Regions from separate parts of the Homo sapiens genome. Here region 2 is linked to region 1. A link means that fine-mapping ties the variant in region 1 to the expression of a gene that starts in the linked region. Tissue or cell type: lung. Region 1 holds a variant in brackets; the other region holds the start of a gene. All regions are shown on one strand. Distances are from middle to middle.

Region 1 (8,108 bases):
GAGACAAGGTTTTACCATCTTGGCCAGGCTGATCTCAAACTCCTGACCTCGAGTGATCTCCCCACCTCGGCCTCCCAAAGTGCTGGGATTCCAGGCATGAGCCACCGTGCCTGGCTGGATTTTTTCAATTTTTAAAGTCGATACATAATAACTGTATATATATATGCGGTACATGTGATATTTTCAAATGTATATAAAATGTGCAATAATCAAATCAGGGTAATTAGGATATCTGCCACTTCTAATATTTATTCTTTGTTTTGGGAACATTCTAAATCTTTTCTTCTAGCTGTTTTGAAATATACAATAAAATACTGTTTACTATAGTCATTCCACTGTGTAAACACTAGAACTTATTCCTTCTAACAGTATTTTCATAACCATTAACCAGCTGTTCTTTATCTCACCAACCCTCCCACCCTTCCCAGCCTCTGGTAACCGTCTTTCTACTCTCTGTTTCCATGAGATCAACTTTTTAAGTTTTCACATATGAGTAAGAACATATAATATTTGTCTTTCTGTGCCTGTCTTATTTCACTTAAGATAATGACCTCCAGGCTCGCCCATGTTGCTGCAGATGACAGCATCTCTTTGTTTTTTATGGCTGAATTACGAATCAGATTTATTTGGTGAAAACACTAGGGCACTCAAGGTAGCACCTTGTAGTTAAGATTATTCCCAGGACTTTATAAAGGAACCGCATGAGAAAATTCAATGTAAAGAGAATAAGTTAACAGTGTGGACCAGAGACTTGAGCACAGTCCTATGCATCTAGGAAAGCATGAAGTATGTGTTTGGGTAGCACAGAGAAATTCTGGCCATGTGGGCTATGTTTACAATAATGCATTTCACTCTTTTCTTACAGATAATAACGGACTTTGATATGACACTCAGTAGATTTTCATATAAAGGGAAAAGATGCCCAACATGTCATAGTAAGTGTGATATTTGTAAACAAATTCACAAAAGCATGTCATCATTATTTTAAGATCCTCTTTATATTACCTGTGAGATAACTGGGTTTTTAAAATTCTTCTTGGACATTGACAGTGAGGAGACCTGCTTTTTCTTATTATATTTTTGAGGTTTTTTTTCCCATATTATATAAATGGTTATTTTCATGTATGGTTTTGGTAGCAAAGGGAATCAGAGACTCCTGAAATATTTCTTGCCAAATATGGTCTATTCATTATTCAAGAAATATTTAAATAGGTTGTAAACTTTGGGTTAACCTGAAGAAACACCATTTATCAAATACTTTGTTTTCTAGGAATTTTACCAAATTTTAATGTCTTTTTTGTTTTCCAACTTGGCTGTGAGTTTTTAAAATAACACTCTTCAACCTGACAGGGAAACGGTGAAATGAACTCTCTCATTTGCTTTTAGTACATGTGTAAATTGAAAAATTATTTTGGGGCTGGGTGCGGTCACTCATGCCTGTAATCTCGGCATTTTGGGAAGCTGAGGCGGGCAGATCATTTGCAGTCAGGAGTTCAAGACCAGCCTGACCAAAATGATGAAACCCTGTCTCTACTAAAAATACAAAAATTAGCTGGGCATGGTGGCGGGCACCTGTAATCCCAGCTACTCAGGAGGCTGAGGCAGGAGAATCACTTGAACCCGGGACGTGGAGTTTGCAGTGAGCCAAGATTGCACAACTGCGCTCCAGCCTGGGCAACAGAGTGAAACTTCATCTCAAAAAAAAGTAAAAAAGGAAAAGAAAAATTATTTTGATAACTTGTATTAAAAAAATGCTAAAAATCGCCAGGCACAGTGGCTCACGCCTGTAATCCCAGCACTTCGGGAGGTGGAGGTGGAATAATCACTTGAGCCCAGGAGTTTGAGACCAGCCTGAGCAACATAATAAGACCTTTTCTTACAAAAAATAAAAAATTAGCTGGGCATTGTGGCATGCCTGTGGTCCCAGCTACTCATTTGGGAGGCTGAGAGGGTCCTTGAGCCTGGGAGGGCAAGTCTATAGTGAGCCATAATCGCACCACTGCACTCCAGCCTGGATGACAAAACAAGACCCTGTCTCGAAAAAAAAAAAAAACACTAAAAATCTTCATATCCTTTGCCCTATTAAGTCCTCTTTGGAGAATTTCTAATAATCTCAAATGCAGTTTTTAAAAAACTTTATTCACAAAAATAATGGTGACTAAGCTCAACATAAAATTATTACTAATAGCAGATGCTTGGAAGCAACCTAAAAAGTTTAATGCTGCAGAAATGATATAAATTATTTTCTGCTCACATACCAGAAATTTTAATTACATGGAAAAATGCAGACTACAATGTGAAATGAAAAAGAAAATTCAAAATTACAGATTTGGTATGATCTCTTATCTAATTGATATACATGAAATCTTAAGACTGAAAGGAAATATACTAAAATATTGTTCATTACTTATTATTGAATGCTAAAACCTTTTACCATTCAATTTTTGTTTTCTTCTTTACAGTGGTCTGGATTTTCCAGATGTTTACGTTAAGCATTTATTATCTTTTTATTACGAAAAAAATGTATTTCCCATATGTGTTTCTTATATTTAATTACAAAGTAGAAAATGGAAGTGATCAATACACAGTTCATAGTATTTGAAGATATTGAATTGTCTATCTCAGTGATGTAAGCGAGCAGTCACTGAATCTCAGATTTTAAGCCATTAGCTTCTTTAACAATGTCATGTGAATTATACCACTGACACCAAAAGTTATAATAACCATGCTAGTTGACTTGGCATTACTTAAAAGTATTGGGTTGGTGCAAAAGTAATTGAGTTTTTTGCCATTACTTTATAGCAAATTATTCATAGTAGTGGTAGCATAAATCAGAGTATTTCTTTTAATGCTTATTTTGCTTTCTATCTTTAGATATCATTGACAACTGTAAGCTGGTTACAGATGAATGTAGAAAAAAGGTAAACACTAACAACAATCTATAGTCACTCAAAGACTTCATTACCCTTTTTGCCTGAGAATTTCTTCAGGTGCATTCACAGAAGTAAGAATGGATGTAAAGTGCTTACAGCCATACCTGGCACATAGTAAGCACTCAGTAAATAGTAGGTTTGCTGTATGAATTACACATTCAAAACATATTTTAAAGATAAAAATTCACAGTAACTTGACAACAAAACTTATATTTAAAACTCTTAAATGATTACCAAAGTATTCTGGTGTTGTAACGTTAACTGGAGATTTAAAACAAAAGTACTTCAGTTTTCTATAGGTTTTGCTCCTTTAAGTTGATGAGGAAGTTGCTTCAGTACTTCGCTTGAGTATGTATGTGTCTGTGTATATCTTAACAAAATGCAATTTGAAATGTGAATCAAATTTAATACCTTTATATGAAAACTAAAGTGTTTTTTGTACTGATAATTTTATTGTTGGTTTTTACTCATCTGAAAGTACTTTACAAAAGAAAGGTAGCTTTTTGCAGGTATATTTGATTACATGTCAACTAAGATCAACAAATATTTTTTCAATTGATGCATTAGCTCAACTTTTAAAGCAGTTTGTTGAAAATACTTGTTTACATTGTTTTGCTTTCTATAAAACCAAGCAGATTTATTTTCAAGTAATCTTCATGATTAAGTTATTCATATCTTCCTAGTTATTGCAACTAAAGGAAAAATATTACGCTATTGAAGTTGATCCTGTTCTTACTGTAGAAGAGAAGTACCCTTATATGGTGGAATGGTAAGTGTATATTAGGCAGTAGGAGGATTAAAAAAAAATAATAAAACAACACTGCAGTTACAACTGATGGCTTATTTTTTACCTGTATTGCAAACAAACAGATTAATAAATTATGCAAGTTAGAGCATTGAATAACAAAATGAGCTCTAATTATCTAATCTCTCTAACAGTTTAGGAATCCTTTTGTTTTGTTTATTTAAGGTGAAGTCCAGTAGGAATAAATTAAAAGTCCTGCATTTAAGTCTCAAATTAAAAACAAGAATTTTTTTTTAAGTATATGAACAAAACGTGGCTTAATGTGTAAAGAAAAGGTATGAGGATTTAAACTGAGTCTGAACTCAGAGCCAGCAGGTGATATGGTTACCCAAAAATCGACCTTTGGTTGCATTAATCAAAATGCAGTGTTCCAGGCAGATCACACTGAAAGCACTGTGTCGGATTCTGGAAGAATGCTGTTAAGAGAAACCATGACAATAGTGACCAAAAAAAAAAAAAATAGATCATGACAAACTTAAAAGGAGTCAGAGTAGTCCACCAGAATGATCAGAGGAATTTGAGCCTTCCCACTTGACGAACATTTCAAGGAATAGAAAATGCTTTGATTTGAGAAGGAACA[A/G]CTTGTTTTAAAATCTTAGGAGACCAGGAATGATTTGTCTTTATTGTCCCGTTACGTAACAGTTGCATACTTCATCTGTATTTGTGGTACTAAATGTTGAAAAGATATTAGACTTAACTCTACAAACTGGTAGCAGCAGAACTGGAACTAGACTTGGAAGATATAAGAAGATTGATTTCAGCATGAGAAATGAAAAGCCTGTCTAGCAATTAAGAGTTTTCTGGCAATGGAATAAGCTTCCCTGGGAGAATGAGCTTACTGACATGTTAGAAGCTGACCCAGGCAGGGAAGAAGGTGACTTAGGAATATTATAGGGGTATTTTTAGGTATCAGATGAAGAGTTAGGCTTTTTTTTCTTTTCGTTTCTTTCTTTCTGTTTTTAGTGGCTGTTTGCATAATTGTAATGGGTTAGAGAGTCTAAGGGCCCTTTATACTGAGATGCTATGATTATAGGTGTTTTCTACATAAAGCAGGCTAATCTGTATATGACACTTGCCATAACAAAGATTTTCTCTCTTGTTCACTAAGTAGCATCTTCAGTATGTAGAAAATTCAAACTACAAACAAATTTTAAAAATGGGGTTGCTCTAATTCATTTTACTGCAATCAGAGAAAGGATTATGCTTCCATAGGTTGGGTTGAGTTTTTATGTGTAGAATTAGGAAAGGTTTATAGCTAGTTTCCTTTCATTACCTTACTAACATATTTAAGCTAAGTCTGGGTTTGGGAGGACTGGGAAACTCAGTAAGAACATGCATATCACATTTTGAGACATGAGGTATACATTCATTAGTGATGAACTTCAATCTCTAAAATTTAAATCCAAATATGAGGAACAGATTTTCTCACATGGAAGAATGTTTTGTAATAAAGATAATAATTTTAGTTTGTCTTAATTGATAGTCTTTTTTCCTTTGGTCATAAACTCCAGGTATACTAAATCACATGGTTTGCTTGTTCAGCAAGCTTTACCAAAAGCTAAACTTAAAGAAATTGTGGCAGAATCTGACGTTATGCTCAAGTAAGTTTCTTGGATGTTTTTTGCTGTTATTGTTCACAGACTTGAATTATTGCTATTTATGTAGTCAGTTGTACTTTTTAAAAATAAGATTGAATATTCCTTATATAACCATATCCAAAATATGCCACCTATCACAAAATACATAGTGGTAAGATAAGGAATTTAGAATGACGTATTAGATCTTGGTGTAGGTAGTAAGAGCCTTATGAGATTTAAATTCTAATTTGTATTTTGTTTCTCCAGATTAAAAATGTCAAGACTTAAAATTTTTGAACCAAGGCCATTTAAAAATTTTTTAGCAAAATACTTAGGAAAGACATATGAAAGGAATGTATAAATCAAGTTAAAAGGGATTTAAGTATACTTTTTTTTTTTTTTAAAGACAGGGTCTCTCTCTGTTGCCCAGGTTAGAGTGTAGTGACATAATCTCTTCCTCAGTTCAACCTCTGCCTCCTGGGCTCAAGCGATCCCCTTGCCTCAGCCTCTCAAGTAGCTGGGACTACAGTCATGCACCACCATGCCTGGCTAATTTTTGTATATTTTTGTAAAGATGGGATTTCACCATGTTGCCCAGACTGGTCTTGAACTCTTGAGCTCAAGCGATCCCAAAGTGCTGGGATTATATGTGTGAGCCACCATGCCTGGCAGTATACTATGTCTAAATTTACATAAGCCTACTTTTTAAATTCTCGAACTTCTTTGAAAACTATTCCTAGGAAAGATTAGTATGTTTTAGTACATAATTATATATGTATGCATGAGTTATAAGATACAAGAAGCTTTTTTTTTTCTTTTTTTTTTGAGATGGAGTCTCGCTCTGTCACCCAGGCTGGAGTGCAGTGGTGTAAGCTCCGCCTCCCAGGTTCACGCCATTCTCCTGCCTCAGTCTCCTGACTAGCCAGGACTTCAGGCGCCCGCCACCACGCCCGGCTAATTTTTTGTATTTTTAGTAGAGACGGGGTTTCACCGAGTTAGCCAGGATGGTCTCGATCTCCTGACCTTGTGATCTGCGCATCTCCGCCTCCCAAAGTGCTGGGGTTACAGGCGTGAGCCACTGCGCCCGGCCCAAGAGCCTGTTTAATACTGTTTATTACCTCGTAAAATTTTCAACTCATTAGGCAAATATGATGATGTTACTTTTTTATGATGATGTTATATTTTAAGGTGATTACTTCTAAAAAGGAAAGCAATAAATTGTCAGAAAAAGTGTGAGGACAGCTAGTAAGTGTTTCATTCCTTAGTAGGCAACATTAGCATTCTTTAACCTATGGCCCAGGAAGGGTAAAAAAGGGAAGAGGGCTTAAGATCTTAGTAAAGACACATGCCAGATGTCGAGAATACATCTAAGTTCCTGCCACTCTGCTTTTCTTTTCAATTTTATGGATTTTGATGAAACTGTAAGAATATCAAGTCATTCTTCATAATTTTAAAATCTGAAAATATTTTAATCATGTAAATGTATTTGTTGTTGGTCAATATATATCCATTAAGTTAGGCCAAGTTGATAGGCCCACTATGGGACTCCATCCTTCTCAGTGTTAATATATCCATGTTTTAACCCCTAAGTGGGGTTTTCAAGGTGTAGCTTAACTATTGTTTTCTCTTTTTAAATTTCATTTTAGAGACAGGGTCTCGCTATGTTGCCCAGAGTGGACTAGAACTCCTGGGCTCAAGCAATCCTCAAGCCTCAGCCTCCCAAATAGCTGGGACTATAGGCATGCACTGCTATGCCTGCCTATTTCTTTTTAAATGGTATAAATTGTGAACTGTAGGTTTATATTCATATTCAGTGAAAGCTTAAAGACATCTAGTTTGTAGTATTAGAATTGATTAAAGGGAAAGTAAAGAGTTAACTGTTGTTTGAAAAACTTGTAGTATTGTAGATATCAATAACAGCCCTCTTGGGCAGTATATTGAAATGAGAATATGAGTGAGCCATAGAATTACTAGGAATATTTCACTTTTTTAGCTTCTAAGTAAAAAGGAACTATATCTTGCTCTTTAATAACCAGTTTGTTATCTCCATCTTACAGAGAAGGATATGAGAATTTCTTTGATAAGCTCCAACAACATAGCATCCCCGTGTTCATATTTTCGGCTGGAATCGGCGATGTACTAGAGGAAGTTATTCGTCAAGCTGGTGTTTATCATCCCAATGTCAAAGTTGTGTCCAATTTTATGGATTTTGATGAAACTGTAAGAATATCAAATCGTTCTTCATAATTTTAAAATCTGAAAATATTTTAATCATGTAAATTTATTTATTGTTACTTAATATATATCCTATATCCAGAAATTAGGCCAAGCCGATAGGCCCACTGTGGGACTCCATCCTTCTCAGTGTTAATATATCCATATTTTAAAAACAATGTGCCCTTCTTAAACTTTCATTCCCCAAGCTATAGACTAATAATAAAAGTAGTAAAACTTCTTCTTTTTTTTTTTTTTTTTTGAGATGGAGTCTCACTCTGTTGCCCAGGCTGGAGTGCAGTAGCACAATCTCAGCACATTGTAACCTCTGTCTCCTGGGTTCAAGCAATTCTTCTGCCTCAGCCTCTCGAGTAGCTGGGATTACAAGCGTCTGCCACCACACCCGGCTAATTTTTGTATTTTTGGTAGAGATAGGGTTTCACCATGTTGGCCAGGTTGGTCTCGAACTCCTGACCACAAGTTATCCTCCCACCTTGGCCTCCCAAAGTGCTGGGATTACAGGCATGAGCCACCACACATAGCCTAAAACTTACTTTAAAATATTTTAATGCAGCAACT
Region 2 (8,108 bases), 63 kb after region 1:
CATGGCTCAGGGGTTAGGGACCCCTGTTCTATTTATTTATTTACTATTTATTTATTTTTGTAAATTGATATCCCATTTCAGTACCCCTGTTTTAGAGCAGTGGTTCTCAAAGTGTGGTCCTCAGACCAGTAGCATCAGCTGGGAACTTGTCAGAAAAGCAAATTCCTAGGCCCTATCCCAGAGCTACTGAATCGGAAACTGTATAACAAGCTCTCTACGTGATTCAGAAGTATATGTAGTTTAAACACTACTGTGCTAGAGCATCTAGAACTCTGTATACCCAAAAAGGTATGTGGTAGGCACATAATAATATTTATCAAAAGACAAGCCTGGACCTTGGGGTCTGCAGACACACCCCTGAGCTCCTCCCAGGTGAATTTTCATCATCCTTGGGTCTTATCCCTGCCATACCAGGATTCCATCCTAACCTCCCCCACACACAGACACAAAAATATATAGTTAAACCTTCTCTGTGCTTTCATAGCTACTTACCTTTCTTCTGTCATATACATGGGTGGACTACAGACCATAGATTATGGCCATGAACTACCTGGGTTCAAATCTCCACTCAACCACTTAGTACTTATGTTCCTTGGGCAAATCATTTGAACTTTCTGAGCCTCAGTTTATTCATTTGTAATGAGGTACCTACCTCACTGTCTTGAGAAGTTAAACAAATTATTCTAAGATTAAATGAGTTAACATATGTGAAGGCACATGGTAAGAACTATGTGTGAACTCTATGAGAGACAGAGTGTGTGCTACTGTCTTACTGTACTTATCACACCATGTTGTAATAGCCTAGGCTGTAAGTGGTAGGGATGGGGAAGAAGCATACTAGACTAGGACTAGTCTCTCTCTTGAGGGATAGACGCTGAAAAACGTTTGATGAATGGATGGTAGATCCTCCATGCTCTTTCAACTGCCCTACACTACCTCACAGTGGCTGCCAGCCCTAGAGATGTTCTAGATAGTAGGACAACTTGTTCTACTGGAATTAATTACCATCAACTCAAGCAAGAAATTCTTCCCTATGAAAGAAGCACATGAAAGAAGATACACAAATGGTCAATACGCATATGATGCTCAACATCGTTAGCCATTAGAGAAATGCAGATCGAAACCACAATGAGATATCATTTCACACCCACTAAATGGTTATAATCAAAGACACAGGCCAGGCGTGGTGGCTCCCGCCTGTAATCCCAGCACTTTGGGAGGCCGAGGTGGGCAGATCACCTGAGGTCAGGAGTTCAAGACCAGCCTGGCCAACATGGTGAAACCTCGTCTCTACTAAAAATACAAAAATTAGCCAGGCGTGGTGGCAGGCACCTGTAATCCCAGCTACTCAGGAGGCTGAGGTAAGAGAATTGCTTGAACCCGGGAGGCAGGGAGGTTGCAGTGAGCTGTGATCGCACCATTGCACTCCAGCCTGGGTGACAAGAGCAAAATTCCATCTCAAAAAAAAAAAAAAAAAAAAAGACAAGTACAAGTGTTGTTGAGACCGTGGAGAACTATGAACCTTCATACACTGCTGGTGGGAATGTAAAATGGTGCAGCCATTGTGGGGAAACAGGTTGGCTATTCTTCAAAACGTTTATAACATAGGTGCCATAGGACGCAGCAATTCCAACTCCTAGGTATATATCCAAAAAAAGGAAAAGGTACATCCACACAAAACCTTGCACATGAATGTTCATAACATCATTCATGATAGCCAAAAAGTATAAGCAATCCAAATGTCCATCAACTGATGAATGGACACAATGGAATATTACATATACAGCCACAAAAAGGAATGAAGTACTGATATACCTTACACCGTAAATGAACCATGAAAGAAGCCAATTATAAATAAATAACAAAGCACCTCAAATTATATGATTCCATTTATACAAAATGTCCAGAAGAGGCAAATCCATAGAGACATAAAGTGGATTCGTGGCTGAAAGGGACTGGAGGGCAGTCTAACTGGGGTTGGGGAGTGACTGATAATGGGTCCAGCGTTTCTTTTTTGGGGGTGATGAAAATGTTCTGGAAATAGCTAGTTGTGATGTTTGCACTACTCTGTGAATATACTAAAAAACACTGAATTGTACACACCAAATGGGCAAATTGTATGGCATTATATCTCAATAAAGCTGTTTTTTTTGTTTCGTTTTTTGTTTTTTGTTTTGTTTTGTTTTTTGAGACGGAGTCTCCCTGTCACCCAGGTTGGAGTGCAGTGGCACGTCTCGGCTCACTGCAGGCTCCGCCTCCCAGGTTCACGCCATTCTCCTGTCTCAACCTCCCGCGTAGTTGGGATTACAGGCGCCCGCCACCTCGCCCGGCTAATTTTTTGTATTTTTAGTAGAGACCGGGTTTCACCGTGTTAGCCAGGATGGTCTCGATCTCCTGACCTCGTGATCCGCCCGCCTCGGCCTCCCAAAGTGCTGGGATTACAGGCGTGAGCCACCGCGCCCGGCCTGTTGTTTTTTTTTTTTAAAGTAACTAAAATGGTAGTAAGAATGACCATTTCTAAGCGCTTGCTAGTGCCACATACTATGCTGAACAGCTTTTGTATATTCATTGTCTGGAACTTCAAAAAAGTCAAGAGTCTACAAAATATTCGTAATGACCCTAGGCCTTGGGGCACATAGCAGGGGCTCAACAAATAGCTCTCTCTGCCTGATCTAGTGTTCGCGAAGGGAAGTGCTGGCACAGACCAGGGTTTGTAACAAAAGCCTTGGCGAGGAGTAGCCTGGTGCTGGACGAAGAGAGGCCTGTTAACCCCGAACCTAAACTGGAGGGAAACGGGAGAGCAGTGCTGTGATCCTGAGGCAGAGCTGAGAGAAGGAGTTCTGGGCTTGATATAGGGCCTGGTATAAAGCAGAGTGACGGTCCTGGACTACCTCCTGCCCACGAGAGGTGTCGTGTTGTGTTTTGTTTTGTGATGGGATCTCTCTCTGTCTCCCAGGCTGCAGTGCAATGGCACGATCATAGCTCACAGCAGCCCCAAACTCCTGGGCTCAAGCGATCCTCCCGCCTCGTTCTCTCAAAGTGCTGGGACTACAGGCGTGAGCCACCACGCCCAGCCCCAAGAGAGGTTTTTGTATGGCAGGAAAGGAAGGGCAGTGGTAGTTGCGCACACAGACTCTGGAGTTGGATTAAACAATCTGACTCCATTGTTTAAACACGTTTCTTAGCCGCAGTTGCTTGTTACCTTACTGATAAAATGAGGGTAGTGATAGTACCTACCTCACAAGACTGCTGTACAATTAAATGAGTTCACTACAATATGGAAAGTACTTAGAACTACACCTACACATTGTTAACAGCTCATTGTATGTTTGGGGCTGCTAGCCTCTTCATCATTGTTCTGTGTGAGAAGCACCATCTGACTAGATTCCCAAGGGAGCGGAGGGAAGGAACAGGAAAGGGCGAAGAGAGGCAGGCACGAACATCCACTCTTGGGGGTCCAGTTGTGCAACGTGGCCTCCACTTACACTGATTATTTTACACTGATTTTGCGTGTGTCCATGCGCTGGGAGGAAAGGGAGGACGTGGTCTGCCCCAACCCCGCTGCTCAAGGTCCTCCAAGGGTCCAGTCCCCGGCTGGCAGCCTAGGGCACGTGAGGGCCGGGAGGCTCACCCGCGGCGGAGGGTCTGGGGTCCGGGAGGATCTGGGCAGCGGAAGAAGGGAGGAGCGCGGCTGCACGGGGCGGAGCTAGGGGAGGTCCGGCAGGAGGGAAAGGCCTGTCCGGAGAGAGGGACGCGCATCCGCTGAGGCCGCGCCGGGCGCCAAGGGCGCGGTACCTGGAGTCGAACTTCTGGCCGTCGGGGAACGTCCCCACGTAGTGGTAGCGCACGAAGTCGCCGCTGCGCACGGTGCGCGGGCACTCGTCGGGCACGAAGCGCCGCTCGATCTGCAGCTCCGCGTCGGAGCCCAGGCCCGCCACGGGCGCTGCCTGCCCGGTCACCCAGAGCAGCAGCAGGAGCAGCGGTGGCGGCGGGGGCCTCCAGCCCCGGAACGCCATCGGGGCGGCGAGAAGAGTGGCGCGGACGCAGCGCGGCGCTCGGGCGGCACGGGTCGGCCTGGGCGTTCGGCTGCGTTTGCAAACGTGGACCGGGTCTCCTGGCCCTACCCGGGCTGCAGCCGCCACCCCGTCTCCCCGGCCGCCCGCCCTCCCGGCCGCAGCTCCAGGGGAGGAGCCCAGCCTGGCCGCGCGCCGAGGGCGGGCCTGCTGCGCCCTGCCCCGCCCGGCATTGGGAATGTGCGTGCCGCAGCGGGGAGGGGGGCTGGGAACTCCAGTGGGGACCAAGTCTGGGCCTAGAGAGGGCGTGTCCCCGAGCGAGACACTGTGATCTCCGGACAAGGCTTTGGCCCAAAGTCGGAAGAGAAAAGCGCGTACTGCCCAAGCCCACCCGCTGGTCTCCGCCCGTCCCTGGAGACACCGGGTTTGGTGCCGTGAGGGGCTCCTACGTGGCCGTGGATCCAATTTTCCCTTGCTGCTTTGGAGAGGGAGGGAAAATTAGATTTTAATTTTTTAAGCTTAGTTACAAGGGTATGGTCTACCTTGAAAGAGACCGAAACCATCCTTCAGGACTTTTTTTTTTTTTTTTTAATACTGCTTAAAGGAAAAGGAAGGCCGGGCGCCGTGGCTCACGCCTGTAATCCCAACGCTTTGGGAGGCCAAGGCAGGCGGATCACGAGGTCAGGAGATGGAGACCATCCTGGCCAACATGATGAAACCCCGTCTCTACTAAAAATACAAAAAAATTAGCCAGGCTTGGTGGCGCGTGCCTGTAGTCCCAGCTACTCGGGAGGCTGAGGTAGGAGAATCGCTGGAACCCGGGAGGCGGAGGTTGCAGCGAGCCGAGATCGCGCCACTGCACACCAGCCCTGGCGACAGTACGAGACACTGTCTCCAAAAAAAGAAAAGGGAGGCATGTATTGCGAGAGGCTCCCGTGACACTTGTCTAGGCAAAAGTTTTAAGGCACCGTGAGGGTCCTCCAAGCCATCAGCGGCCGCACTGTGAGCTGATACTTGCAGACATCCTACAAGCTCCCATATACGAGCCTATGCCAGGGAGGACTTCATCATAGAGACCCAGAAGCCACAGGAATCCATTAGAGTAATCAGATGCACTTGGAATTGGAATTGGGTGTTATAATTTATTAAAATTTTGGAATAATGAAAGCAAATCACCAACTCTTTCTCAACTCGTTTTGGAAGCAAACACAATTCTGATACCAAAACCTGGCAAAGAGAGCAACAAAAAAGAAAAATAAAACTGAAAAAACAGGGCACGATCTAATTTATAAATATAAATGCAAAAATACTGAATAAAACGTAATAAAATCGGATTCAACCGCATATTAGGCCAGGCGCAGTGGCTCACACCTGTAACCCTAGCACTTTGGGAGGCCGAGGTGGTTGGATCACCTGAAGTCAGGAGTTCAAGACCAGCCTGTCCAACATGGTGAAACCCTGGCTCTACTAAAAATACAAAAATTAGCAGGGTGTGGTGGCACGGCCTGTAGTCCCAGCTACTTGGGAGGCTGAGGCAGAAAAATTGCTGGAACCTGGGAGTCGAAGGTTGCAATGAGCCGAGATTGTGCCACTAAATTGCACCACTGCACTCCAGCCCAGGCGACAGAGTGAGACTCTGCCTCAAAAAAAAAATAAATAAAAAATTTAAAAAACGGTATGTTAAAGGAAAAATATACCATTACATGGGCTACCTAGGTGAGCTTCTGTAAATTAACAAAATGTCAGTGTTCTCTGTAAGATGAAGATAAAACAATCATTATAAGATTACTATAATCTTAGGTTTCAGGGATCGAATGAGAAACTACATGAATAACAAGAAAAATGTTCATTGTTCATCTTAGAGCTTATTCTAGAAATAGAACACCTATTAATAAAATTATAGGACAGAAGAAGGGAAAAAAAGCTCTAAGATCATGTGGCCATAGACTCAAAACGGCATGAGATAAAATTCAACATCTACCTCTGATTTTGAAAACAAACAGAGGGCCTGGTGGCTCACTTCTGTAATCCTGGCACTTTAGAAGGCCGAGGCAGGAGTATCACTTGAGCCCAGGAGTTTGAGACCAGCCTGGGCAACATGGCAAAACCCCACCTCTACGAAAAAATACAAAAATTACTCACCCCTGTAATCCCAGCACTTTGGGAGGCCAAGGGGGGCAGATTGCTTGATCTCAGGAGTTTGAGACCAGCCTGGGCAACCTGGTGAAACCCCGTCTCTACTAAAAGTACAAAAATTAGCTAGGTGTGGTGTTGCATGCCTATAATCCCAGCTACTCCGGTGGCTGAGGCAGGAGAATCGCTTGAACCCCAGAGGCAGAGGTTGCACTGAGCCAAGATCGCACAATTGCACTCCAGCCTGGGTGACAGAGCAAAACTCTATCTCAAAAAAAAAAAAAAAAAAAAAAGAAAAAACTTTCTGATTGTAGTCTATTAAGTCTATTAATGGCACTGACCACCAAAAAGTACTTTTGCATGTCATCTTTGTGTTGTCAAACAATACCTTGATTTTGAAGTATATAATCATTGATAATAAAAATTGTTATACATTTTATTGGCATGAATTCAGACATTCAGTTCATTCACTACACATATACTTTGGTCCAGTCTTTGCTTCACTTATGTCTCCGTGGCTTCAGGCAAGTCAGGTAACTTCTTACTTCCACCCTTGACTGTAAAACAGATGATACTTATCTTGCCTACTGACCTCTTACGGCAATTTGGGGAAATATCTTGGTGCTGAATTAGTTTCTAGGCTCAGACGCTAAACATACAATACATATTAATTGGTAAAGACTTGGGATTTGAAACTTGATCTTTTGAACTAGATGCCAAGAAGTCCAATCTTCATGACAACTCTGTATAAGGTCATAGGTGTAATCACTACTTTACAGAAAAAATAAACTCCAGCCTGGGCAACTGAGTGATACCCTGTCTCAAAAAGAAAAACAAAAACCAAACAAAAATTAGCCAGATGTGGTGGTGTGTGCCTGTAGTCCCAGCTATTTGGGAAGCTGATGTTGGAGGATCGCTTGAGCCCTGGATGTTGAGGCTGCAGTGAGCCATGATTTCACCACTGCACAATTGGCCTGGGTGACAGAGAGAGACTTTGTCTCAAAAAAAAAAAAAAAAAAAAAAAAAAAAGGTAGAGCAGGGCGGCCTGCACCTGTAGTCCCCGTTCAGCTACTTCGGAGGCTGAGGTGGAAGATCATCTTCAACCTAGAAGATGGAGGCTGCAATGAATTGTGATCACACCACTGCACTCCAGCCTAGGTGACAGAGTGAGAGCCTGTCTAAAAATATATATAAAATAAAATAAAAATGAATGTCTGCTCGTGGTGGCAGGATCTAGGAGCCTGTAGTCCTAACTACTTGAGAGCCTGAGGTGGGAGGATCTCTTGAGCCCAGAAGTTCAAGTCCAGCCTGGGCAACATACCACGACTCTGTCTCAAAAAAGAAAAAAAAAATCTTGCTATTAAAAAATGTCACAAATTTTTTAAAGACAAATGATAAATTAAAAAAATACTTGGCCAGGCGCTGTGGCTCACGCCTGTAATCCCAACACTTTGGGAGGCCGAGGCGGGCGGATCGCGAGGACAGGAGATCGAGACCATCCTGGCTAACACGGTGAAACCCCATCTCTACTAAAAATACAAAAATTAGCCGGGCGTGGTAGCGGGCGCCTGTAGTCCCAGCTACTCAGGAGGCTGAGGCAGGAGAATGGCGTGAACCCGGGAAGGGGAGCTTGCAGTGAGTTGAGATCGCACCACTGCACTCCAGCCTGGCGACAGAGCAAGACTCCATCTCAAAAAAAAAAAAAAAAAAAAAAAAAAAACAACTTACGGCCAGGCATGGTGGCTCACGCCTGTAATCCCAGCACTTTGAGAGGCTGAGGCGGGTGGATCATGAGGTCAGGAGTTCAAGACCAGCCTGGCCAAGATGGTGAAACCCCGTCTCTACTAAAAATACAAAAATTAGCTGGGCGTGGTGGCAGGCATCTGTAATCCCAGCTACTCGGGAGGCTGAGGCAGGAGAATCACTTGAACCCCAGGGACGGAGGTTGCAGTGAGCCCAGAT

The links. PIP is the estimated chance that this variant, and not a neighbour inherited with it, causes the effect.
Region 2: it holds the start of FKBP9, and the variant in region 1 is fine-mapped to the expression of FKBP9 in lung (TOPMed, PIP above 0.99).

What each region holds. Positions count from the first base shown.
Region 1 is chr7:33,016,866-33,024,973 of GRCh38, reverse strand. NT5C3A (5'-nucleotidase, cytosolic IIIA) reads left to right here. Exons shown (of 9, transcript NM_001002010.5): 3 at 866-935; 4 at 2,875-2,921; 5 at 3,617-3,702; 6 at 5,250-5,339; 7 at 7,373-7,535. Among named protein-coding and RNA genes, the nearest start is that of NT5C3A, 42 kb to the left of the region's middle. The variant A/G (reference allele first, on the strand shown) is at 4,319.
Region 2 is chr7:32,953,482-32,961,589 of GRCh38, reverse strand. It overlaps FKBP9 (FKBP prolyl isomerase 9), which reads right to left and starts at 4,150. Exons shown (of 10, transcript NM_007270.5): 1 at 3,796-4,150. The coding sequence starts at 4,016. RefSeq lists a silencer at 3,894-4,363 and enhancers at 4,454-4,503, 4,353-5,303.